Linked DNA regions of Homo sapiens. The protein of the gene in region 3 purifies or fractionates together with the protein of the main gene of each other region. This does not show direct contact. Each region holds a gene or a part of one and is shown on either strand. Other genes may lie near its edges. The genes, in order: ITPRIP, BACE2, TCTN2, KCNJ8, ABHD14A, CSGALNACT2 and PGAP6.

What was found.
Region 1: the proteins of TCTN2 (region 3) and ITPRIP purify together in Homo sapiens (affinity purification with mass spectrometry; 2 studies listed by BioGRID and IntAct, with this or other methods). This does not show direct contact.
Region 2: the proteins of TCTN2 (region 3) and BACE2 purify together in Homo sapiens (affinity purification with mass spectrometry; 2 studies listed by BioGRID and IntAct, with this or other methods). This does not show direct contact.
Region 4: the proteins of TCTN2 (region 3) and KCNJ8 purify together in Homo sapiens (affinity purification with mass spectrometry; 2 studies listed by BioGRID and IntAct, with this or other methods). This does not show direct contact.
Region 5: the proteins of TCTN2 (region 3) and ABHD14A purify together in Homo sapiens (affinity purification with mass spectrometry; 2 studies listed by BioGRID and IntAct, with this or other methods). This does not show direct contact.
Region 6: the proteins of TCTN2 (region 3) and CSGALNACT2 purify together in Homo sapiens (affinity purification with mass spectrometry; 2 studies listed by BioGRID and IntAct, with this or other methods). This does not show direct contact.
Region 7: the proteins of TCTN2 (region 3) and PGAP6 purify together in Homo sapiens (affinity purification with mass spectrometry; 2 studies listed by BioGRID and IntAct, with this or other methods). This does not show direct contact.

The regions. Positions count from the first base shown.
Region 1 is NC_000010.11:104,314,466-104,317,965, reverse strand, and holds part of ITPRIP (inositol 1,4,5-trisphosphate receptor-interacting protein precursor), read left to right. Parts: intron 1-1,901; coding exon of another isoform or gene 1,902-1,914; coding exon 1,915-3,500. UniProt on the Homo sapiens protein: Enhances Ca(2+)-mediated inhibition of inositol 1,4,5-triphosphate receptor (ITPR) Ca(2+) release.
Region 2 is NC_000021.9:41,241,160-41,244,659, reverse strand, and holds part of BACE2 (beta-secretase 2 isoform A preproprotein), read right to left. Parts: intron 2,842-3,500; coding exon 2,713-2,841; intron 1,285-2,712; coding exon 1,150-1,284; intron 1-1,149. UniProt on the Homo sapiens protein: Responsible for the proteolytic processing of the amyloid precursor protein (APP).
Region 3 is NC_000012.12:123,702,113-123,705,505, forward strand, and holds part of TCTN2 (tectonic-2 isoform 1 precursor), read left to right. Parts: intron 1-2,419; coding exon 2,420-2,576; intron 2,577-3,393.
Region 4 is NC_000012.12:21,764,707-21,768,206, reverse strand, and holds the end of KCNJ8 (ATP-sensitive inward rectifier potassium channel 8), read left to right. Parts: intron 1-1,583; coding exon 1,584-2,484; 3' UTR 2,485-3,252; downstream 3,253-3,500. UniProt on the Homo sapiens protein: Inward rectifier potassium channels are characterized by a greater tendency to allow potassium to flow into the cell rather than out of it.
Region 5 is NC_000003.12:51,978,064-51,981,696, reverse strand, and holds the end of ABHD14A (protein ABHD14A), read right to left. Parts: coding exon 3,615-3,633; intron 3,439-3,614; coding exon 3,323-3,438; intron 1,305-3,322; coding exon 1,069-1,304; intron 862-1,068; coding exon 679-861; 3' UTR 501-678; downstream 1-500. Other genes in the region: ABHD14A-ACY1 readthrough (NMD candidate), read right to left, coding at 3,323-3,438, 3,615-3,633. UniProt on the Homo sapiens protein: Possible role in granule neuron development.
Region 6 is NC_000010.11:43,148,445-43,151,944, forward strand, and holds part of CSGALNACT2 (chondroitin sulfate N-acetylgalactosaminyltransferase 2), read left to right. Parts: intron 1-1,342; exon of another isoform or gene 1,343-1,699; intron 1,700-3,500. UniProt on the Homo sapiens protein: Transfers 1,4-N-acetylgalactosamine (GalNAc) from UDP-GalNAc to the non-reducing end of glucuronic acid (GlcUA). Required for addition of the first GalNAc to the core tetrasaccharide linker and for elongation of chondroitin chains.
Region 7 is NC_000016.10:375,479-378,978, reverse strand, and holds part of PGAP6 (post-GPI attachment to proteins factor 6 precursor), read left to right. Parts: intron 1-1,130; coding exon 1,131-1,308; intron 1,309-1,393; coding exon 1,394-1,601; intron 1,602-1,814; coding exon 1,815-1,942; intron 1,943-2,166; coding exon 2,167-2,435; intron 2,436-2,523; coding exon 2,524-2,843; intron 2,844-3,500. UniProt on the Homo sapiens protein: Involved in the lipid remodeling steps of GPI-anchor maturation. Lipid remodeling steps consist in the generation of 2 saturated fatty chains at the sn-2 position of GPI-anchor proteins (GPI-AP).

The DNA.
Region 1 (3,500 bases), on a different chromosome or scaffold from region 3:
AACCCTTGTGGTTCCTGCAGACCTGTCCAGCTGTGTATGGGGTGGAACTGTCTGAGTCACATCTGAGCAGCAAGTTTGTCTAGGCGTGACCAGCAGCCAACTCAGTCCATCTCCATCCTGCCACTTGCCAGGGACAACCTGCAGAGGTATCTTTACCTGGGGACAAATCCCTGTTCCTTGGCACCATTAGGACAAGAATTTCATTGTGCAAATTCCAGGTCGGGCTCAAGCCAAAGGGAATGGGGCTCAGGTTGGCACAGTAGCTCCTATCAGCCAGTGTTAGTGTGCACTAGGGGGTGGTAGAAGGAGCCCTGTGCTCTCAACAATCTCAGGACCTCAACTGATTTGCATTTGGCCATTTGCTTCCTTCATCGAGGTCCCAAGCAAGGAGGGGGGTAGTTCAAGTGTGGAAATAGCAGATTGTTAAGTCCCAGGATTCCTGCTGAGGAGAGGAGAGGGTGTAACTAAGTCTTGCAGCGTAAGACAGTGCCTCTCAGATTTTTATATGGATGGTATTAAAATGTGGATTCCGATTCAGTAAGTGTGGGTGGGGCCGAGATTCTGCATTTCTAACAAGCTCCCAGGAGATACTGCAGCTGCTGGTCCGTGAATCATACTTCGAATTGCAAAGATTGTAGGGATTAGCCTTTCTCCAAAAGTCACTTGAGGCTTAAAAATCCACTTATCCTAGGGGAACAGAGTGCCTCCTTTCACAATTAAGAAGTTAGATTTAAAGTTCACATGCCTGGTAAGAAGAAATTAGTGATTCTTTGCTCTCTGGTCATCATCAAGATTGTCCTGGGGAAAGACAAAAGCCAGGAGAGTGTGTCTGAATATGGGGTAAGGTCTTCCAGGTCAGAAAGAGACGTTTACAGAAGAGGAGGATAAGGGCTCAAATCTACTTCCGAAACAGTTATTGTTCAGTGAATATGTGCTTTGCACTGGTCACTGGGCCATGCAGTTTGCAGGGATCATTGCGTCTCTCAATACCATGACCCTGTGAGATACTATTGCTTTCCCCTTGTGCAGTAAGGAAACCAGGGCTCAGAGAGGTGTGTTAACATGCCCAGGGTCACACAGCTTTTCAGTTGACAGTGCTGGTTTGGAACCTAGCCCTTTCTCCCTTAACCACTAGGCTTCACTGTATTGCAGGAAGATGACATTCACTTGGGAGAGAAGGGGATATGTTATTCAGGACTATTTTGATTTCAAGTGGTGGAAAGGCCACTCAAACTGACTTAAAAAGGGTTTCTTTATTGACTTGTGTGACTAAAGAGCTCAGACAGCAATGCCTTCAAGCAGAGCTGAGTGTGGGGAGGGGGGGTTCTGCTTTCCTCTATGTTGGTGTCTTTCTCAGGCGGGCTCCCTTCCCGAGAGCCCACTGCAGGTATAATCCTGTTCCCTCAGCAACCTAGCAACCAAACTAGCAACAGGATGAGTCTTTCTTCCTATTGGGCCCAACACACCCTACATCTGTCTCTCATTGGCCCGAATTGGATCAAATGCTCATCCCAGAACCAATCGCTCTAGCTGTAGCTGGGCGGCAGAATGTCTGATTGTCTTGGGCCTGGGTTTTGAGCCCACCCCAGGAGCTTGGAGGTGGGTATATCCTCGCCCTGGCCATAAGGACTGGTAGGAGAAAAGGGTTAGGGACAGTGGGGTGCTGCTGCCATCCAGGAATGTCTGGGTAGGACTAAAACAGATGTCCACCCCAGGGTAGGCCTTTGGGGCTCTTCCATGGCTGGACTGAAGCTCCTGAGGCAGCCGCAGGGAGCTCTCGATGGGTTGGGTGGGAGAACTAAGACCTTAACCAGCCCTGAGGGGCTGAGGTTGGTGCGGGGCCCAGGGACGAAGTGGCATTGAGGGAAGCTTGGTGTGACCATCTGTCTCTCTGTTCCCAGGAAAGCTCCAACCATGGCCATGGGGCTCTTCCGCGTGTGTCTGGTGGTGGTGACGGCCATCATCAACCACCCGCTGCTGTTCCCGCGGGAGAACGCCACAGTCCCCGAGAACGAGGAGGAGATCATCCGCAAGATGCAGGCGCACCAGGAGAAGCTGCAGCTGGAGCAGTTGCGCCTGGAGGAGGAGGTGGCTCGGCTGGCGGCCGAAAAGGAGGCACTGGAGCAGGTGGCGGAGGAGGGCAGGCAGCAGAACGAGACACGCGTGGCCTGGGACCTCTGGAGCACCCTCTGCATGATCCTCTTCCTGATGATCGAGGTGTGGCGGCAGGACCACCAGGAGGGGCCCTCACCTGAGTGCCTGGGCGGTGAGGAGGATGAGCTGCCTGGGCTGGGGGGCGCCCCCTTGCAGGGCCTCACCCTGCCCAACAAGGCCACGCTTGGCCACTTTTATGAGCGCTGCATCCGGGGGGCCACGGCCGATGCAGCCCGTACCCGGGAGTTCCTGGAAGGCTTCGTGGATGACTTGCTGGAAGCCCTGAGGAGCCTCTGCAACCGGGACACCGACATGGAGGTGGAGGACTTCATTGGCGTGGACAGCATGTACGAGAACTGGCAGGTGGACAGGCCACTGCTGTGCCACCTTTTCGTGCCCTTCACACCCCCCGAGCCCTACCGCTTCCACCCAGAGCTCTGGTGCTCCGGCCGCTCAGTGCCCCTGGATCGCCAGGGCTACGGCCAGATCAAGGTGGTCCGCGCCGATGGGGACACATTGAGCTGCATCTGCGGCAAGACCAAGCTCGGGGAAGACATGCTGTGTCTCCTGCACGGCAGGAACAGCATGGCGCCTCCCTGCGGCGACATGGAGAACCTGCTGTGTGCCACAGATTCCCTGTACCTGGACACGATGCAGGTCATGAAGTGGTTCCAGACGGCCCTCACCAGAGCCTGGAAGGGCATCGCCCACAAGTACGAGTTCGACCTGGCCTTTGGCCAGCTGGACAGCCCGGGGTCCCTGAAGATCAAGTTCCGTTCAGGGAAGTTCATGCCCTTCAACCTGATTCCTGTGATCCAGTGTGATGACTCGGACCTGTACTTTGTCTCCCACCTTCCCAGGGAGCCCTCTGAGGGCACCCCAGCCTCCAGCACAGACTGGCTCCTGTCCTTTGCTGTCTATGAGCGACACTTCCTCAGGACGACACTAAAGGCACTGCCCGAGGGCGCCTGCCACCTCAGCTGCCTGCAGATAGCATCCTTCCTGCTCTCCAAGCAGAGCCGCCTGACCGGTCCCAGCGGGCTCAGCAGCTACCACCTGAAGACGGCCCTACTGCACCTCCTACTCCTCCGGCAGGCCGCCGACTGGAAGGCGGGGCAGCTGGACGCTCGTCTGCACGAGTTGCTGTGCTTCCTGGAGAAGAGCTTGCTCCAGAAGAAGCTCCACCACTTCTTCATCGGCAACCGCAAGGTGCCTGAGGCCATGGGACTCCCTGAGGCCGTGCTCAGGGCCGAGCCCCTCAACCTCTTCCGGCCCTTCGTCCTGCAGCGAAGCCTTTACCGTAAGACACTGGACTCCTTCTATGAGATGCTCAAGAATGCCCCAGC
Region 2 (3,500 bases), on a different chromosome or scaffold from region 3:
TATACGTCCAGATGGCCTGAAGCAAGTGAAGAATCACAAAAGAAGTGAAAATGGCCGGTTCCTGCCTTAACTGATGACATTCCACCACAAAAGAAGTGAAAATGGCCAGTCCCTGCCTTAACTGATGACATTACCTTGTGAAATTCCTTCTGGCTCATCCTGGCTCAAAGGCTCTCCCACTGAGCACCTTGTGACCCCCACCCTGGCCAGCCAGAGAACAACCCCCTTTGATTGTAATTTTCCACTACCTACCCAAATCTTATAAAGTGGACCCACCCCTGTCTCCCTTCACTGACTCTCTTTTCAGACTCAGCCCACCTGCACCCAGGTGAAATAAAAACCTTGTTGCTCAAACAAAGCCTGTTTTGTGGTCTCCTTACATGGACGCGCGTGACAAGAGGTACCTGCATATATGAGAATTGATGTTGGGATGTGATGGGTAATACGAACAGAAGTGCTAACAGGTTAGAATATAATGACATCCCCATGGTTTTTATAAAGCATTCTAAAAGTGCTATAGAAGACTGAGGCTCTCACAAGTCATCATAATCATAATGTCATAATGTGTCACGAACAAGCCAGAACTCAGTGAGAAGGCATGAACATGGTCCTGAGGTTTGGTGTCAGAGCTCTGTATGTGGCCACTTTAGCACTACCAAGCCACACACATCTATACAGCATGACCGTTTTTTAGGGAGAATTGGGTACTCTGGGGGCCAGGCTAGCTGTGAATGGAGGATAAAAGCTGATGATCTTTTCGGTTTCATTTTGCTTAATTTTCGTCCTTCTCTGTCCTACACTGATTAAAAATCTGTTTATTTCAACCTCTTAAACTGAGCTTAGGGACCATCAATCCAAGATGAATGAATGGTGAAAGGTGTAGCTCAGATAGTCCTCTTCACTCACCATTTAATGGTAATTTTGCCCTATGAAGATAAGTGGTTGGGAGGATGCAATATTTGGGGTGGGGAGGGAGGACAATTAATTGATTTCAACTTACTGTACAGCAAGGCCCTGCATCTTTTCATGTAATGAGCCTTTATCTTACGAGGTAATGTACCTTCTATTGGCATCTACGGGTTCCAGCTGGCATATTTAAGGGACCCAGACATACACAGAAAGACACAACAGAGACCATAGCATAAATACCTCTCTGCAGTCCAGATTAAGGCTTTGGCCTCCAATTTCCAATTTCAGAATTTCTATCTGGTAGTACCACTCTTCCTTAATAGGGGTATACCAGATGTCTCCTTTATACAAACTTGGTTCAATTCCACCCAAGACCTGGGACAGGAAATATTTACAGGTATAAGAGAAAAAATACACAGACATATCAACAGGTTACACAGAGAAGCATGCACTTGTAAAGAGAAACTTCACTGCAATCAGGGCTTCTACTTCGTGACAATGTCATGAAACAAATATCAATGCTTAAAAAATAAACAAGGAGCCAGGCGCGGTGGCTCACGCTTGTAATCCCAGCACTTTGGGAGGCTGAGGTGGGCGGATCATGAAGTCAGGAGTTCGAGAACGGCCTGGCTAGCATGGTGAAACCCCATCTCTACTAAAAATACAAAAATTAGCCGGGCAAGGTGGCGCGCACCTGTAGTCCCAGCTTCTCAGGAGGCTGAGGCAGGAGAATCGCTTGAACAGGGAGGCGGAGGCTGCAGTGAGCTGAGATCGCGTCACTGCACTCCAGCCTGGGCGACAGAGCGAGACTCCATCTAAAAAAAATAATAATAAATGAAATAAAATAAAATAAAATAAAACAAGGAATTTTATGGGTCCACGTCTGCAAAGGTCAGATGGTATTAGGCCCTCATCTAATCAAGATGCTTTGGAGGTTTCTCTTATCCAAAGAAAGTACATACAAGTTTAGCTTTACAATATTGAGATTTTTCCTTCAAAGAAATGCAATAAAACAGTTAACCACACTGACTGACAATTATTTAGTTCCTTGGAGGTCAGAGAACAGAAGATCAAGCACTTCCCTGATCAAAGCTTCATTGTGCAAAATCATAAAACATTTCCTCATAAATCCTATGCTGTCCTCTGCCTGGAAATGGTAGCAAATGAAAGTAGCTGAGGACCGGGGTGCAGATCCTGCCTCTCATAGTCAGACAGCAAAGGGACTGGCAGCACCCCCTTCTAGTGCATTCTTCCTGTCCCCTACTACTTTTGACGTCTGGGTGCCGGCCCCTGGAGGGAAGCTCAGGCTCCAGCACCTCCGTAGTGCTGACGGCCTTGATTCTGTTTCAGCAGCAAACACTTGTGCTGTGGTGCGTGTGTGCCTGTGTGTGTTGAGAGAGAGAGAGAGAGAAAGGATCTACAAGGGCCCCTGTTTCCCTGCCAAATTTATGAACTCTCCTTTGGCCCCCTACCCACAGTCAGGTCCACTCACCACGCCCCCCACCGCTCCTCACTTGTCCCTCCCCCACCCACAGAAAGCAGTGCCCTTCCAAGGGCGGTAAAGAAAAGTTTTAATGGAATTCGGAGAAGCGATGAGAATCATCCTTCCAGATGGCAGGATGACATAAAGGATTGCCTAATTTTAGCCATTTCTAAAAAGATCTACTACAAGGAGGATGAAAGTTTTACAGTACCTACGCACACCTACATGCCTAATATTTCTGCTCAGGTGTTTAATAAAACAGAAAAAAACAGCCCATCCATCTGTGATTTTTCGCCCCTTTAAGACTAAAAGATACCCACAAGACTACCTCCGTTGGTCCCAGATCCAGCAACGGGCAAGCCGGCTCCACACATCTGCATGGAGAAAACGTTGGGGATGTTTGCTTGTGTCACCAGGGAGTCGAAGAAGGTCTCCAGAGAACTTGATGGCTGCGGGAGGGCGACAGAGAGGGGCACCCGCTTAGGACTCACAGTGTAGACATGGGTCACCCAGTGTAGACGCCACGCGCCACAGACATTCCTGGTGTTTATACTCAATTTTTTCATGGTTCAACAGTACACCAGCTTGTGATTGGGTCTAGGAATTCAGAAAGCCCCAGCAGAGCTTCCCACTGGTTGGCATTCTTCCTTTGGGCACGGCTCTGTTGTACAAATAAGATCATATTTCTGGAAGCCATTCGACGCAGTCACATCTATCATCATGACTGCCTTGTGAGGGGGTGTGAGAAGCCGTGGAAGTAGGTTACCGTGGCAGGTGGTGGATCCTAATCTTAGGCATTTGAGAGTAAGGAGAGAAGAGTTTCTCTAGGAGCTGCCATGGCCGCAGACATCTTTGTTTGCCTGTCAGCCGCAGCTGTCCACCATGCAAATGAGAGGTGGCTGACCTGGGAGGACAGTATCCCCCGGACCCCAGAGCCTGGGGTGAGGCTTAGCTCTGCCAGATGAACTCTGGCAGGAAAGAAGCAGGAAAGGCACAAATCTATACTCCAGAAGCATAAAAGGCTTCTTATTCCCCCAAGGCCAGATTTCAGAAGCCCTCGTGTGCTCTGTGTCTCCCTCACATCCAGCAAGACATACAGAGGATGCCC
Region 3 (3,393 bases):
TTTCTTGGGGAGCCTTGAGTCTGTAAATACTTTGAATGGAAAGCTTTTTTTATTGAGCTAATTAATGGAATTGCCTTTTGGGACCAGAAAGAGCCCAATGAGTGTGCGCATCTGCTTTGCCCCTGCCCAGCTCTCCCTGCAGATGCTGCTCTGCCCCTCTCCTCTGCCTGGTGGGTAGGGATCAGCCCTCTGGATCCTGTCCCTACCCTTTCCATCTCCTCTGAGGTCAGCTAGGCTCAGTAGGCTGGAATTCACACAACGGCCCATACAGACACACACCTGTATTGTGCCTACTCCTTGTGATTGGGGTCATGGTGATGAGGACCCTCCCTTCCCCCTCTTGGTCATGGATAATGTGATATGTCTGTGAGCTTGAGGTGCCCCAGACCACTCTCTGACTTGGGGAGGGAGTCCTGTTGGACTCCACCCCCACGGGGCACTCAGGCTGCTGTTTGCTCATCTAGCTGGTGCTCAAGGCACTGGGCCCAGACCTAGATCCTCATTTGCAAACGGAACCCAGAGGTCGAGCTTGTCAAGCCCTGGGCTCTGCCACCCAGGCCAGCTAGATAGGCTGTGGAATGACCCTGAGGGCTGGAGAAAAGTCAGCAGTTGGGAAATAAACGGTAGGGAAAATGTCCAGACGGAGAACCCAGGTTGATGAGGTACGAAATCAGTGTGGTGATGACATTTTGTTGCCTTCAAGGTGGAAGGGGTTAGCTTTTATTTCATGTCTGAGCCAAAAAGCAACCTTGATCCTGGTTAATAAGCAGAAGAGAAGTGGTGTTGACACATGTATAAGGAAATTAGACATAAAACAGTGTTACTGACCTTCGGAATCCCTGAAGGAGCAAAGAACCCCCTTCAGAGGAGCCATAGAACCTACCCTACTTCCTCCAATTGACCTTGCTGGGTTTTCTCCAAGACGAATGCAAATTCATTTCTCATTCAATTTCATTCTCTTCCAATTGTATTAATACTATGGTAACACATTAGGAAATTACTTACCTATCTAATACATACTAATTAAAGTCGTTAGTGTGGATTTTGTTTTATTATTATTTTTTTTTCAATTATTATCATTATTTTTTTTTTGAGATGGAGTCTCACTTTGTTGCTGGAGTGCAGTGGCATGATCTCGGCTCACTGCAACCTCCACCTCCCAGGTTTCAAGTGATTCTCCTGCCTCAGCCTCCCAAGTAGCTGGGATTACAGGTGTGCGCCACCATACCTGGCCAATTTTTGTATTTTTAGTAGAGACAGGGTTTCACCATGTTGGCCAGGCTGGTCTCGAACTCCTGACCTCAGGTCATCCACCCACCTCAGCCTCCCAAAGTGTTGGGATTACAGGCGTGAGCCACCACGCCCGACTGATTTTTATTTTTATTTTTTGAGATGAGGTTCTCACTTTTGTCCAGGCTGGAATGTAGTGGTGCCATGCCATCACGGCTTACTGCAGCCTTGACTTCCCAGGCTGAAGCAATCCTCTCACCTCAGCCTTCTGGGTAGCTGGTGTGTGCTACAGGTGTGTGCCACCATGACTGGCTATTTTATTTTTCTCGAGGAGACAGGGTTTTGCTATGTTGCCCAGGCTGGTCTCAAACTCCTGGGCTCAAGCAGTGCTTCTACCTTGACCTCCCAAAGTGCTAGGATTATAGGCATGAGCCACTGTGCCTGGCCTAAAGTTGTTAGTATGGATTTTAAATGTCTTACACAGCTTTTACTAGAACTGTGACTGCATGGAATAACGATGGCATTTCACTGCAATTATATATGTTTCTGTTAAAAGGCTGGGTAGATTTCAGTGGGAGCTTGGAAACTGAATCATGATTTATGGCTTTAATATGTGGGTCAGGGCTTTTAAGTTCCAGTGACTGGCTAACATACAAGGAAACTTTTTTTTTTTTTTTTTTTTTGAGACAGAGTCTCCCTCTGTCGCCAGGCTGCAGTGCAGTGGTGTGATCTTGGCTCACGGCAAGCTCCGCCTCCCAGGTTCACGCCATTCTCCTGCCTCAGCCTCCCAAGTAACTGGGACTACAGGCGAGCACCACCACGCCCAGCTAATTTTTATACTTTTAGTAGAGATGGGGTTTCACCATGTTGGCCAGAATGGTCTCGATCTCTTGACCTCGTGATCTGCCCGCCTCAGCCTCCCAAAGTGCTGGGATTACGGCGTTAGCCACCGCACCCGGCCCATACAAGGAAACATTTTAAACACAATTTTTATTAGTGCCATCCTATGCCTTGTAGACTTTAAGGGATAACACAGTTATGGAGTGACAAGTAACTAGAGCCTGTAAGAGACTAAAGCCTCATTAATGTGATGCCTGCCTGATATTATTCCCCATTTTGGTTATTACGACATTGTAGGAAAACTTATCAAATTATTCTTTGAAAAGTGTATAACTTAACATTTCTATAGGTGTAGATGCCCCTGATCCAGGTGCAGACCCGCTGGCTAGCAGTGTGAACGGCATGTGCCTGGATATTCCTGCTCACCTGAGCATCCGCATCCTCATCTCGGATGCTGGCGCGGTGGAAGGGATTACTCAGCAGGAGATACTCGGTGTAGAGACAAGGTATGATCACATCTTGGATCACCGTAGTTTAGAGAGAGTCAGGAAAGTTGAGAGCATCCCAAACAATAGGGAAATGTTTATTTAGAAACTGATTGTTTATTTACAACTTGCAATTATTAGCAAGATGTTTATATGCACATATGGAATATGTACGAACTATGTGTATAATGGAGACTTATTCTCACAAGTATTTATAAAGCCATATGTAAGAGAGTCTGCAAGTTATTTTAGGGAGTACAAAGATGAATAAAGGGCCCCTTAGTACTAAGTATATTTTGAAATCCATGGATGTAACTGATAATCTGATCAGAGAATATTGTCTGTGGTTAGAGACTTTGGCAGCAGATAGGTTCAAATCATGGCTGTCCTACTTAGGAGCTGTGTGACACTGGCCAATTACTTAACCTTTCTGAGCTGTAGTTTCCTCCTCTGTAATATGGTGATAATACCTTTATGTATCAAGCCTCCATCAGTTTTTTTTTTTTTTTTTTTTGAGACAGAGTCTTGCTCCGTCTCCAGGCTGGAGTGCAGTGGCAATATCTTGACTCACTGCAACCTCCAACTCTCTAGTTCAAGCGATTCTCCTGCTTCAGCCTCCCGAGTAGCTGGGATTACAGGCACGTGCCACCATGTCCAGCTAATTTTTGTATTTTTAGTAAAGACAGGGTTTCACCCTGTTGGCCAGGATGGTCTCAATCTCCTGACCTCATGATCCGCCCGCCTCGGCCTCCCAAAGTGCTGGGATTACAGGCATGAGCCACCGCGCCCAGCCTGCCTCCATCGGTTTTAAGTGACAGGCGCCCAGTTCATACTGACT
Region 4 (3,500 bases), about 100 Mb from region 3:
TGTCACATCAGTGGGGGCATTAGATTCTCATAGGAGTGTGAACCCTACGGTGAACTGCGAAGGTGAGGGATCTAGGCTGCGGGCTCCTTGTAAGAATCTAATTCCTGATGATCTGAGGTGGAACAGTTTCATCTCGAAACCATTTCCCCCCACACACACCCCCCAGTATTGTCTTCTACAAAACCAGTCCCTGTTGCCAAAAAGGCTGGGGACTGCTGCCCTAAACAATTACAATAATGACATCAAATATCACTAATCACACATCATGGTAACTGATGTAATAATAATGAAAAAGTTTGAAATTTTGTGAGAATTACCAAAATGTGACACACAGACACAAAGTGAGCACGTTTTGAAAAAATTGTGATAATAGACTGGCTGGATGAAGGTTGCCACAGACCTTCAATTTATAAAAATGCAGTATCTGCAAAATACATTACAGCAGAGAAGAATAAAATAAGGCATATCTGTATGTGACCTTGACACAGTCATTTACTAGTTTCTGCCCCTAGTTCTCCCTTTAATCATTTCAGTATTCTCCAGAACACCTAGAGTAGTGCTCCCCAACCTTTTTGGAGCCAGGGACTGGTTTTGCGGAACGCCAATTTTTCCACTGATGGGGGTGGGGGATGGGGATGGTGTGGGGATAAAACTGTCCCACCTCAGATCATGAGGCATTAGATTCTCATAAGGAGGGATAACCTATATCTCCCACATGTGCAATTCACAATAAGGTTCACTATACCATGAGAATCCAGTGCCTCCACTAACCTGACTGGAGGCAGAGCTCTGGCGGTAATGCTGGCTTACCCACTACTCACCTCCTGCTGTGTGGCCTAGTTCCTGACAAGCCATGGACCAGCACTGGTCCCTGGCCTGGAGGTGGGGGGGGGGGGGGTTGGGGACCCCTGACTTAACAAAATTAGATCATCAATAAGACACTTTTCTTTCCAAATGGAAAACAACTCCCTTCTATTAAAAATACTAGTTGTTTGGAATAATGTGTTTTATACTAGTTTTTTTAGCACTGTGCTATTTCTATATGAGACACAAAATAAGTATTAGCTAATGAATATGATTTTAAAGATTATAAATAATAAATTCACTCAGTACTCAGTACCTTCCATATGACTCAAGTCTCCTAAACATAGATACGCAATAAATAATAAACATCTACCTGGTAGAAAGTTTTACAAAGTAAACTGTGCCTTTGTGAAAGTGAAGTATTTCGCAAGGTAAAATATGCATATATATGAAAATATATTAATCTTTTACACAAATTAGGCCCATCACTATGTGACCTATGAAACATTAATAGAATGTTAATAGAATTAGGCCTTAGCTTAAGGGAACTTAATTAATAGAATGTTAATCTCCAGAAGTCTGGAGGTAGATGCATGCAAGAGAGAGAGAGACTGTTCTAAACACAGTTTAGAATTAGGCATTTTACAAGTTTAAGTTGGCTAGTCTTTCTGCAAGCATTTAATAGTCTTTGGTGGAAGAAAATGAAAAGCTCAGCTTGGCATATTTCATTATTCAAAATGTGACCTGATGGTGTTCTTTTCTGATATCATTCCTCACAGGTCTTTCACTTCTGCTTTTCTCTTCTCCATTGAAGTTCAAGTTACCATTGGGTTTGGAGGGAGGATGATGACAGAGGAATGCCCTTTGGCCATCACGGTTTTGATTCTCCAGAATATTGTGGGTTTGATCATCAATGCAGTCATGTTAGGCTGCATTTTCATGAAAACAGCTCAGGCTCACAGAAGGGCAGAAACTTTGATTTTCAGCCGCCATGCTGTGATTGCCGTCCGAAATGGCAAGCTGTGCTTCATGTTCCGAGTGGGTGACCTGAGGAAAAGCATGATCATTAGTGCCTCTGTGCGCATCCAGGTGGTCAAGAAAACAACTACACCTGAAGGGGAGGTGGTTCCTATTCACCAACTGGACATTCCTGTTGATAACCCAATCGAGAGCAATAACATTTTTCTGGTGGCCCCTTTGATCATCTGCCACGTGATTGACAAGCGCAGTCCCCTGTATGACATCTCAGCAACTGACCTGGCCAACCAAGACTTGGAGGTCATAGTTATTCTGGAAGGAGTGGTTGAAACTACTGGCATCACCACACAAGCACGAACCTCCTACATTGCTGAGGAGATCCAATGGGGCCACCGCTTTGTGTCCATTGTGACTGAGGAAGAAGGAGTGTATTCTGTGGATTACTCCAAATTTGGCAACACTGTTAAAGTAGCTGCTCCACGGTGCAGTGCCCGAGAGCTGGATGAGAAACCTTCCATCCTTATTCAGACCCTCCAAAAGAGTGAACTGTCTCATCAAAATTCTCTGAGGAAGCGCAACTCCATGAGAAGAAACAATTCCATGAGGAGGAACAATTCTATCCGAAGGAACAATTCTTCCCTCATGGTACCAAAGGTGCAATTTATGACTCCAGAAGGAAATCAAAACACATCGGAATCATGACAGCAAGATAACCCCAAGACAGTCTTTTATCAAGTTTTGACGGTTTATGCTGGGCACTGCCAGACTGAACCAGAGCTGGAACACAATAATGTGTCCTTCTACATTTTATTACACTAAATGATATTCATATTCAAGCAACAGCACTTTCTGTAGTAATAAAAAGTAACACACCAAGTGGAGGATTCATGGCTTATGCTTGTTTCATACATGTAGAATTCGCAGTGATATACTTAAGTTATGTGCAGGGGTGGGTATGCTCGTTTCTCTCAATTTGAAACACAAGAATTACACTAATAGTAACAGGCCTTGAGCACAAAATTTGGTCAAGAAATGAGTCTGTTTGAAATGCTTAGTTGGTGAAACCCAGATCGCTGTGTTACTAATGATCACTCTGGAAATGCAAATAGAATAGGAGGGGAAAAAACAAAATCATGTTAATGCGTTTTGTACATCAGCCTTCTCCTGTCTCCATGATAACTGCATTTGGTAGGAAGCCTGAGGCAAAAACTGCTTAAGTGGATCTGTTTGTAAGTGGATTCAGTTCATTCGCTTTGTCTGTCGGTGACTCCTGAAGGTTTCCTGGTCCATCTCATTGCGGCCTGTTGGGCAGAGCTGGACAAGGTGTCTTTGAAGGAAAGCTAAGTCTTGTCTCATTTAGGACTGGGTTCCCCACAGTGACAGTCACTTCCTTCAGCATCTCACTTCTTCTTCTAGAATCCCCACAGGGAAATACTGTATTGAATATTTTATTAAAACATTTTCTTTGTACTCACTGTAGTTTTGTGATTCCTCTTTCACAAAATCATCCCAAGTTAAAACTCAAGATGTTTTTAGAGCCATGTAAAAGAGATGTCAAAGTGATAACACTCACTCTGAGATTCCTCTCTCTCAAGTCTGTTTGCTCCAAAACTAGCTTTTTTTTGCTTTGTTTTGATTTTATTTCAGGTTTTAAAATGTCCTCTTGGTTTTTCAATCTAAGCCTGACATACCATAAAAATCCTATAAGCTTTTTTTTT
Region 5 (3,633 bases), on a different chromosome or scaffold from region 3:
AGTCAGGATGGTCTCGATCTCCTGACCTCGTGATCCGCCTGCCTCGGCCTCCCAAAGTGCTGGGATTACAGGTGTGAGCCACTGCGCCCGGCCAATGCTGGCTAATTGTTAAATCGCGTTCCCCATACCCTCTAGGTTCCTGACTTCCTTGGCTTGGCTGTCCAGACCCTGGATTTCCCACCAATCCCTGTGGTCATGCAGCAGCAGTAATACACCCCGCCTCCCACCAGCAATTCCCCAGCCTTATGTGGCCAAGTACTCAGTTATCCAGACTCATTCAGTCCTATAACCACCCTCCAACCTAGGTGTTGCCATCATACCCGTTTTACAGATAAGGAAACTCAGGCACAGAGTGGTGAGGCCAGGCACTTAGGAAGTGGCGCATTCTTAGCCTTCTCAGACTGCTGGACATCCCCTCCAGCTCCCAGGCCCAAAGTAGTCCCAGACTTGCCTCCCACTCCCGTCTTTCCCACAGCACACCAGGAAACGGAACCTGTCACTTCCCAGGCAGGACAAATATGCTTTTTTATTGTGTCTGTGAGATGAAATGAGGAGTCCTGGCTGGGTCTGACCCTGGCCTCTGGCCTCCAATCCCAGAGGCTGTCTCCCTGGTTCAGGGAGGGTGGCGGTCCAGACTGTCCAAGCTCATGCCAGGCTGGGAGCTGGGAGTGGGTTAGTTCAAGGTAGATGGTCAAGGAAGGCAAGCAGGACAAGGTGGAAGTCTTGCGGCTTGTGGAGGTAACAGGCATGGCCTGCATTGCGTAGCTTCACCACAGAGTGGTTGGGCAGGTGGCGGAGCTGCCGCAGTGACTCTCGAGCCAGGATGTGGTCCAGCTCTCCATACAGGATAAGGGTTGGAGTCTGCAGGGCAAGGCAGGGGGCTGTGATCTTGGGGCCTGATGAGTTTCTGACCCCCAAGCCACTTCCTAGGAAGCCTTCCCCAACACCATCCAACTCTTCCATCCAAGGTCAGGGATAAGGCCATGTCCCTCCAAGTAAGACTTGAGTCCTGAACCCCCCCAAGCCACAGACAGGGTGCCAGGACCTTTGAGATCCTTCTCCCAGTACCTTCACAGCCCAGAATTGCTCCTGGGTGTAGTTCTGGGTGGAGGTGGGTGCGATGGGCACAAATCCATGTAGCTGGTGGTGGCCTCGCATCAGGAAGGGCAGGGCATAGTGGCCACTCAGCGAGGGGCTCACCAACACGGCATTCTGTACCTCCAGGTCCCGCAGCGCCCGCTCCAGCAGCGCTGCCCGCCCTGCCTCTGTGCTTGCCTCCTTTGAAGGTGCCGAGTTCCCAAAACCTAGGAACAGCAGCAGGTACCAGCTGAGGGGCACTGGGAAGGGGCACAGGACTTCCTGCCCACCACAGTGGGGGAAAAAGTTGGGGACCACTGGCACTGGCACACACTACCTAAAACTGCCCAGAAGCTATTTTCTGGTAATGTAATATGCCTGTTAGAAAAGCATATCTTGGCCGAGAGTGGTGGCTCACGCCTGTAATCCCAGCACTTTGGGAGGCCGAGGCGGGCAGATCACGAGGTTAGGAGATCGAGACCATCCTGGCTAACACGGTGAAACTCCGTCTCTACTAAAAATACAAAAAATTAGCCAGGCGAGGTGGCGGGCACCTGTAGTCCCAGCTACGCAGGAGGCTGAGGCAGGAGAATGGCATGAACCCCGGGGGGCGGAGCCTGCAGTGAGCCGAGATCATGCCACTGCACTCTAGCCTGGGCGACTGCGAGACTCTGTCTAAAAAAAAAATAAAATAAAATAAAAAATAAATAATACCCAGTGTTGGGGGAGACATGGGGAAATGGGCACTTTCATACATGACAGATGGGAAGATAAATCCATATAGTGTTTTTGGAGGGTGAGATAGTAGTTATCTAAATTTAAAAATGCATGTCCTGGCAGCTGGGCGCGGTGGCTCATGCCTGTAATCCCAGCACTTTGGGAGGCCGAGGTGGCGGATCATGAGGTCAGGAGTTTGAGACCAGCCTGACCAACATGGTGAAACCCTGTCTCTACTAAAAATACAAAAATTAGCCAGGCATGGTGGGGCGCACCTGTAATCCCAGCTACTCAGGAGACTGAGGCAGGAGAATCGCTTGAACCCAGAAGGCGGAGGTTGCAGTGAGCCGAGTACGAGCCACTGCACTCCAGCCAGGGTGACAGAGCGAGGCTCTGTCTCAAAAAAAAAAAAAACAAAAAACAAAAAAAGAAACAAACAAAAAAAAAACAAAACACAACACATCCTTTGGCCCATCAATTGTCCTCAGTAGCTACCCTAGAGAAATTATTGCTCACATGCTCAAAGAAGCATGCCCAAGGATGCTTTAGCTACTATATTGCTTGAGCACTCCGCCAGTAGAGGAATGGCTGAATAAAGCCTGTCCATCCCTCCTATGGGACACACTGCAGGGTTGACAACAAAGAGGGAGGTTTGTAGGGACCGGCATGATCCTTGAGACATGATGTAGGGGGAGAAAACCAAGCTACAGATGGATGTGCTAAGCAGACAGGATACCAATCATGTTTACAGCCCCCACTAGACAATCCTCTACATCGTCTGCATCTTTACATGTGGGAATACCCAGAACAGCGTGTGGCATCCCCTAAACTTCTTAGAGAGGGAGAGAAATGCGGCACCAGTCTCTCAGAGCTTTGCTATTTTTTAGTATTTTTTAATCCTCTATGACTCGACATTTTTTCATTTTTTTAATGACAAGAATGATAGCATAAATCATTTGTGTACTTAAAAACACAAAACCTATATGGTTTGCCATAGAAAGTACACTGCTTGGCCGGGCGCAGTGGCTCACACCTGTAATCCCAGCACTTGGGGAGGCCGAGGCAGGCGAATCACCTGAGGTCGGGAGTTCAGGACCAGCCTGGCCAGCATGGTGAAACCCTATCTCCACTAAAAATACAAAAATTAGCCAGGCGTGGTGGCAGTCACCTGTAATCTCAGCTACTGGGGAAGCGGAGGCAGGAGAATTGCTTGAACCCGGGAGGCGGAGGTTGCAGTGAGCCGAGATTGTGCCATTGTACTCTAGCCTGGGTGACAGAGCGAGACTCTGTTTCAAAAAATATATATAAATAAAATAAAAAAAAAGAAAGTATACTGCTTGTGAAGAGTTTTTATTTGCTCCATGACCTAGAATTCACACTGTAGTTTTCATAGTAGAAAATGAAAACACAGACTTTTTCATGGTGCCACCTTATGTTGTGACCTGCCACGGCCTGTCCAGACCCTAGGGTCCAGTTGCCTCCCAGCCACACTTAAGGCTTCCCTAGACAAAGGGGTGGGGGTGCTCACCTGGAAGGTCAAGGGCCACGGCCCGGTAGCCCCTCTGTGACAGTAGCTGCAGTGTGCCCAGCTGCTCCCACGTGTGAGAGTTAAAGGCCTTTCCATGAAGCAGCACCACCTCCACCCTGCAGGCACACAGGGGAATGTGTTTGCTGGGAACCTGGTGTAGCCCACCTTTCTTTATTCCTAGGCTTCTCCCATTGCCCTCCCAGGACCTGAGCACCCTGAGTATAATGGGGGTCCCACACAGGGACTCCCCTTGAGCCTAGTCCCTCCACTAGACCCTTGGAGCAGCACCTACCTGTGTGCCTGGTTGAGTG
Region 6 (3,500 bases), on a different chromosome or scaffold from region 3:
AAGAGGATTGTGTTTAATCTGTACATTAATTGGGGAATATTACCATTTTAGCAATATTAAGCCTTCCAATCATGAGTGTGGTGTCTTTCTGTTTATTTAAATCTTAACTTTCTTCCAACAATGTTTTGTAGTTTCTATGAATACAAGTCTTGCAGTTCTTTTGTTAACATTATTCCTATTTTATTCTTTTTGATGCCATATTGTATACAGGATTGTTTTTTTAATTTCATTTTCAGATTGCTTGTTGCTAATGTAGAGAAATACAATTGATTTTTGTATATCGATATTGTATCCTACAACTGGCTGAACTCATTTATTAGTTATAATAGATTTTTAGTGAATTCCTTAGGATTTTCTGCATACAGATCATATCATCTGCAAATAAGGATAGTTTTACTTCTTCCTTTTCAATCTGGATGCCTTTTATTTCATTTTCTTGCCTAATTGCCTTGGCTACAACCTCCTCTAGTACAATATAAATAGAAGTGACAAGAACAGACATCCTTGTCTTATTCCTGATCTTGGGGGAAGGCATACAGTCTTTCATCATTAAATACAATGTTAGCTATGGGTTTTTTGTAGGTCCCTTTTCTTAGATTAGGAAGGTGTCTTCTAGTTTATTGAATGGTGTTTGGTTTGGTTTGGTTTGGTTTTTTGAGATGGAGTCTCGCTTTGTCGCCCAGGCTGCAGTGCAGTGGCGTGATCTCGGCTCACTGCAACCTCCGCCTCCCAGGTCCATGTGATTCTCCTAACTCAGCCTCCTGAGTAGCTGGGACTGCAGGTGCATGCCACCACCACACCCGGCTAATTTTTTGTATTTTTAGTAGAGGCGGGGTTTCATTGTGCTAGCCAGGATGGTCTCTATCTCCTGACCTCGTGGGATCTGCCCACCTCGGCCTTCCAAAGTGCTGGAATTACAGGTGTGAGCCACCGCACCCAGCCCCTATTGAATGGTTTTTATTAGGAAATGGTGTTGGATTTTGTCAAATGCTTTTTCCATGTCTGTTGAGATGATCAAGTGAATTTTGTCTTCTATTGATATGGTATATTGCATTAATTGATTTTCAGATGTTAAACCAACCTTGCAGTCCTGGGATAAATCTTATTTGGCCATGATGTATGATTCCTCTTATATATTGCTGGGTTCGTTTTGCTAGTATTTTGTTGAGGATTTTTGTATTTATATTCATATAGGATATTGGCCTATGGTTTTCTTTTAATGTCTGGATTTGGTAGCAGGATGATACTGACCTTATAGAATGCTTCCTCTTCTATTTTTTGGAAGAGTCTGTGAAGATAATTCTTATTTAATAATAATAATTCTTATTTAAATGTTTGCTAGGCTGGGTGTGGTGGCTCACGCCTGTGATCCCAGCACTTTTCGAGGCTGAGGCGGGTGGATCACCTGAGGTCGAGAGTTCAAGACCAGCCTGACCAACATGGAGAAACCCCATCTCTACTAAAAATACAGAATTAGCCAGGCGTGGTGGTGCATGCCTGTAATCCTAGCTACTCGGCAGGCTGAGGCAGGAGAATCCCTTGAACGTGGGAGGCGGAGGTTGCGGTGAGCTGAGATCGCGCCATTGCACTCCAGCCTGGGCAACAAGAGCGAAACTCTGTCTCAAAAAAAATAATAGTAATAATAAATAAATGTTTGGTACATTCCACCAGTGAAGCCTCTTGGCCTGGACTTTTCATTGTGAGTAGTTTTTTTATTATTATTAATTCAATCTTTTGTCATATAAGTCTATTCATATCTGGTATTTCTTCTTAAATCAGTTTTGTTAGTTTCTATCTTTCTAGGATTTTGTCCATTTTATTCAGTTATCTTTTGAAGAGATTTAGATAATAATGAGCAAAAATCTTAGTTACCAATGTCGTTAACATTAATGATGTTTTTCATTGCTTTGTATAAATCCATATTCCTTTCTGGTATTATGTTCCTCTGCCTAAAAGACTTACAGTACAGGTATGATGGTGATGAATTCCTTTAGCTTTTTATGTAGAGAAAGTATTTTGCCTTTTTCAAAGATAATTTCTCTGGGTATAGAATTGTAGGCTGGCATATTTTTCTTTTTAGTTCTTTAAAGATCATTGTTCCACTGTCTAATTACTTTCAGTTTTCAAAGAGTAATCTGTCATTATTATCTTTTGTTCCTTGTATGTGATGTGCATTTTTCATGTGGCCAGTTTAAAGATTTTCTCTTTACATTGGATTTGAGCAATTTGATTATCATGTACCTTGCTATAATTTTCTTTATGGCTATTTGGGATTGGTTGAGCTTCTTATGTGTGTTTATAGTTTCCATCAAATTTGGGAAATTTTCAGCCTTATTTGTTTAAGTATTTCTCCTGACTCCTTCCCCCTTCTTTGGGGACTCCAGTTACATGTATATTAGGCTGTTTGAAGTTGTCACAGAGCTTATCAATGCTTTGTTTATATTTTTGATTCTTTTTTCTTTCTGTATGTTGCATAGTTTCTTTTGCTACATCTCTAGTTTACTAATATTTTCTTCTAAAATATCTAATCTGCCATTAATCCCATTCAGTGTATTTTTCATCTCAGACACTGAAATTTTCATCTCCTGAAGTTTAACTTGGATCTCTTTTATGTCATTCATACCTCTACTTAAATTTTTGAACATAAACATCATTTTAAAAATACAGTTATGATAGCTGTTTTGGTGTCCTTTTTCTGCAGATTCCCACATCTGTCAGTTCTAATCATTGGTCAGTTTTAATTGTTGATTTTTTTCATTATGGATCATATTTTTTTATACCTGGTAATTTTTGTTGAGATGCCAGATATTGTGAATTTTATTTTGTTGAGTACTGGATATTTCTGTATTCTTATAAATATTCTTAAGGCTTGTTGTGCTATTACTTGGAAATAATGTGATCCTTTCAAGTCTTGCTTTTAAGATGTATTGGCAGGATTAGTGCCATGTTTAGTCTAGAGCTAATTATTTCCCACTACTGAGACAAGATTTTTTTGAGTGCTCTACCGAGTGCCCTGGGAATTCTGAGGTTTTCCAGTCTGTCTGTTGGGAACATGCACTAATCCTGGCCCTGTATGAATGCTGGGTTCTGTGTCCTCTAATTTTGTGTGTGGTCCTTTCCTTAGCCCGTTAGTTGCCTCATAAGCCTTTACTTATCAGTGCTCTGCCAAATACCCATGGGATATCCTATTCAGATTTCTGGAGTTCTCTCTGTGTGCAGCTGTATCCACTCTGGTACTATATGCTTTAATCCTAGATACCTTGGTCTCTTCAGACTATGAGCTGCATCCCATGAACTCAGGGAATCTGCTGGGCTCTGCTTAGGTTCCCCTCCTTGTGTGGCTCAGAAACTAAGGCAGTAAGCTGGCAACCACTTGTTTCTTGTTTCTCTGGGGATCACTGTCCTTTGTTACCTGATGTTAAATATCTTGAAAATCATTGTTTCATATTTTGGGTTTGTTGGCAGGAAAAGTTGTTTGTTTGTTTTTGGTTGTTTCAAGA
Region 7 (3,500 bases), on a different chromosome or scaffold from region 3:
ACGGGGGGCTGGGGGTGAGAGCCTGAGTCCTCGCCTGGGGCCATGAGCAGGATGTCTCCCACGGGCCCTTCTCCATCCCCGCACCAGGCGTGGGTGCGTTCCCTGAGGACAGTTAGGAGCCTTGCCCGCTTGGAACGCAGAGGGCAGCTGTCCCCTTGTTCTCATGACTGGCCAGGCTTCTGGCCTGGGTCCCTCCCACATGCAGTATCTCCCTCTGGGTAAGGGGAATTTGGGCTCCGGTCTCGCCGTGTCCAAAGTCATCATAGCCCAAGCAGGCAGCCAACCCATCCAGGGATGGAGATGTGGGAGGCTGAGAGGAGGTGGGAGGACCGTGCCTTGATATCCAGGGCATCTGTGATGAGGGGCGGGGGCTCCTTCCTGACACCTGCTGGGTCCTTCGGCTTCGACCTGGGTTGGCCATGGGGAGTGTAGTCTTCTAAGGTTGGAGGGGGTCCGGGTGGCAGTGCGGGTGGGGATGGCAGTCAGAGTGGCGATGGCAGTGCGGGTGGCGATGGCAGTGTGGGTGGCGATGGCAGTGCGGGTGGGGATGGCAGTGTGGGTGGCGATGGCAGTGCGGGTGGCGATGGCAGTCAGGGTGGCGATGGCAGTGCGGGTGGGGATGGCAGTCAGAGTGGCGATGGCAGTGCGGGTGGCGATGGCAGTGCGGGTGGCGATGGCAGTGCGGGTGGCGATGGCAGTGTGGGTGGGGATGGCAGTGCGGGTGGGGATGGCAGTGCGGGTGGCGATGGCAGTCAGGGTGGCGATGGCAGTCAGGGTGGCGATGGCAGTGCGGGTGGGGATGGCAGTGCGGGTGGCGATGGCAGTCAGGGTGGCGATGGCTGCTGAGGTACCCTGCGGCTTGTTTGGAAGCTGCTGCAGTGAGGCGGCAGCTGTGAAAAGACCCAGATGCCAGGAGGGTGGGATGTAGGCCATCTGGGGAGGGACAGCAGAGGATCTGGCTGAGGGGCCAGAGGGTGTCGGTGACCTTTGCCAAGGTCAGAGTTGGTGTGCCAAGATCTCCAGGTGGGTCCCCGGGGGCTTCCAGCCCTTTCCATCTGGGGGACTCGTCCTCCCCATCTGCGGCCCTGGAGGAGGGTCCCGGCCTGGCTGACACCTCCTTCTCCTCACAGAGGTGGGGCTGGTGTCCGAGCACTTCTCGCAGGCCCCGCAGAGGCTGTCCTTCTACAGCTGGTACGGCAGTGCCAGGCTCTTCCGCTTCCGCGTGCCCCCAGATGCTGTGCTTCTACGCTGGCTCCTGCAGGTCTCCCGGGAGAGCGGCGCTGCCTGCACCGACGCGGAGATCACCGTGTAGGTGGCTGCCCGCCCGCCTGCCCACCCTCCCGCGCCTGGCCAAGCCCTGTGCCTGAACCCGGTGCTGCTCTCCCGTCTCCAGGCACTTCCGTTCCGGCGCCCCTCCGGTCATCAACCCGCTGGGCACCAGCTTCCCGGACGACACCGCGGTACAGCCCTCCTTCCAGGTCGGGGTGCCGCTGAGCACCACACCGAGAAGCAATGCCTCCGTCAACGTTTCCCACCCGGCCCCCGGGGACTGGTTCGTGGCCGCCCACCTGCCCCCCTCATCCCAGAAGATCGAGTTGAAGGTGAGGGGGGCTGCCCTCCGGGATGGAGGCAGAGAACCTTGCGGCGATGGCCTGTCCCTGCCGTTCACCTCTTTGGGGTGGTCCTCGCTCTAGGCTCCACGCTGCACTCTGGGGCCAGCCCTGCTCCCTGCATGCCGGGGGCGTCTGGTGAGACCATGCCCTCACACCTGCATTCTCTGACACCGCCCCCGCCCACACCTGTTCTTTCCCTAGGGCTTGGCTCCCACCTGTGCCTACGTCTTCCAGCCTGAACTGCTGGTCACGCGGGTGGTCGAGATTTCCATCATGGAGCCGGACGTGCCCCTTCCTCAGACCCTCCTCTCCCATCCCAGCTACCTCAAGTGAGCGGGGGCCTGGGGGGCAGCCCGGCTCTGCCCTCCGGCCCCTTCTCAGATTCGGTGGAGTGGGTGCGAGAGCCTGGCCCTGAGTCCTGGGGTTGGGCTGGGAAGTGGTCCAGATGCCTGGCCCCCACCAGAGTGGGCTGAGGAACAGCAGAGCCTGGGCACGCTGCGTCCCTGGGCTGAGGAATGGCAGAGCCTGAGCCAGCTGTGTCCCCTCGCTGCAGGGTCTTTGTCCCCGATTACACGCGGGAGCTTCTGCTGGAGCTGCGGGACTGCGTGTCCAATGGGAGCCTGGGCTGCCCCGTGCGTCTCACCGTGGGCCCGGTCACCCTGCCTAGCAACTTCCAGAAGGTGCTCACCTGCACCGGTGCCCCCTGGCCCTGCCGCCTGCTGCTGCCCTCACCGCCCTGGGACCGGTGGCTGCAAGTGACAGCTGAGAGCCTGGTGGGGCCCCTCGGGACAGTGGCTTTCAGTGCTGTAGCTGCCCTCACAGGTGGGCCGCACAAGGGCTGGAGGGATGGCCCTGCCCCTCCCCAGATCCCCAGACTTTCCTCCAGCCAAACCCCTTGTCCTCTCGGCAGCTTGCAGGCCACGGAGCGTGACCATCCAGCCCCTTCTGCAGAGCAGCCAAAACCAGAGCTTCAATGCCTCCTCTGGTCTGCTGTCCCCGAGCCCCGACCACCAGGACCTGGGCAGGAGTGGCAGGGTGGACCGCAGCCCCTTCTGCCTCACAAACTACCCAGTCACGCGGGAGGACATGGACGTGGTGTCGGTGCACTTCCAGCCCCTGGACAGGGTCTCGGTGAGGGTGTGTTCGGACACGCCCTCCGTGATGCGGCTGCGCCTGAACACCGGCATGGACAGCGGGGGTTCCCTCACCATCTCCCTGCGGGCCAACAAGGTACCTGCTGTCTGCAAGCGGCCTGTGGCCTGGGCTCGGGCAGGGCGCCGGGCAACCCCTGCAGCGCCTCCTCATTTACCTTGGCACGGGACAGGCGGCACAGTGACACCAGCAGGCACGGGCCAAGACAGGGGCCCATGTTGGGGGGCCTCCCCTGCTGGGCAGCCTTGTTCCTGTCAACAGGCCCCGGGGCTGTGGGGTAGCTCGGGTCAGAGGTGGGGTGGAGGCAGGATGTCCCAGGGCCCGGGGAGGAAGGTCCCGGTGCACCGTGGGCCTGCAGGAGTCTCAGAGAAAGGCACCAGCACCGGCCGGGCGCGGTGGCTCACGCCTGTAATCCCAGCACTTTGGGAGGCCGAGGAGGGTGGATCACGAGGTCAGGAGATTGGGACCATCCTGGCTAACACGGTGAAACCCCGTCTCTACTGAAAATACAAAAATTAGCCGGGCGTGGTGGCGGGCGCCTGTAGTCCCAGCTACTCGGGAGGCTGAGGCGGGAGAATGGCATGAACCCAGGGGCGGAGGTTGCAGTGAGCCGAGATCGCGGCACTGCCCTCCAGCCTGGGCGACAGAGCAAGACTCCATCTCAGAAAAAAAAAAAAAAAGAAAGGCACCAGCACCAGGCTGAGCTGGCACGTGGGGCAGATGACCCCACTGCGG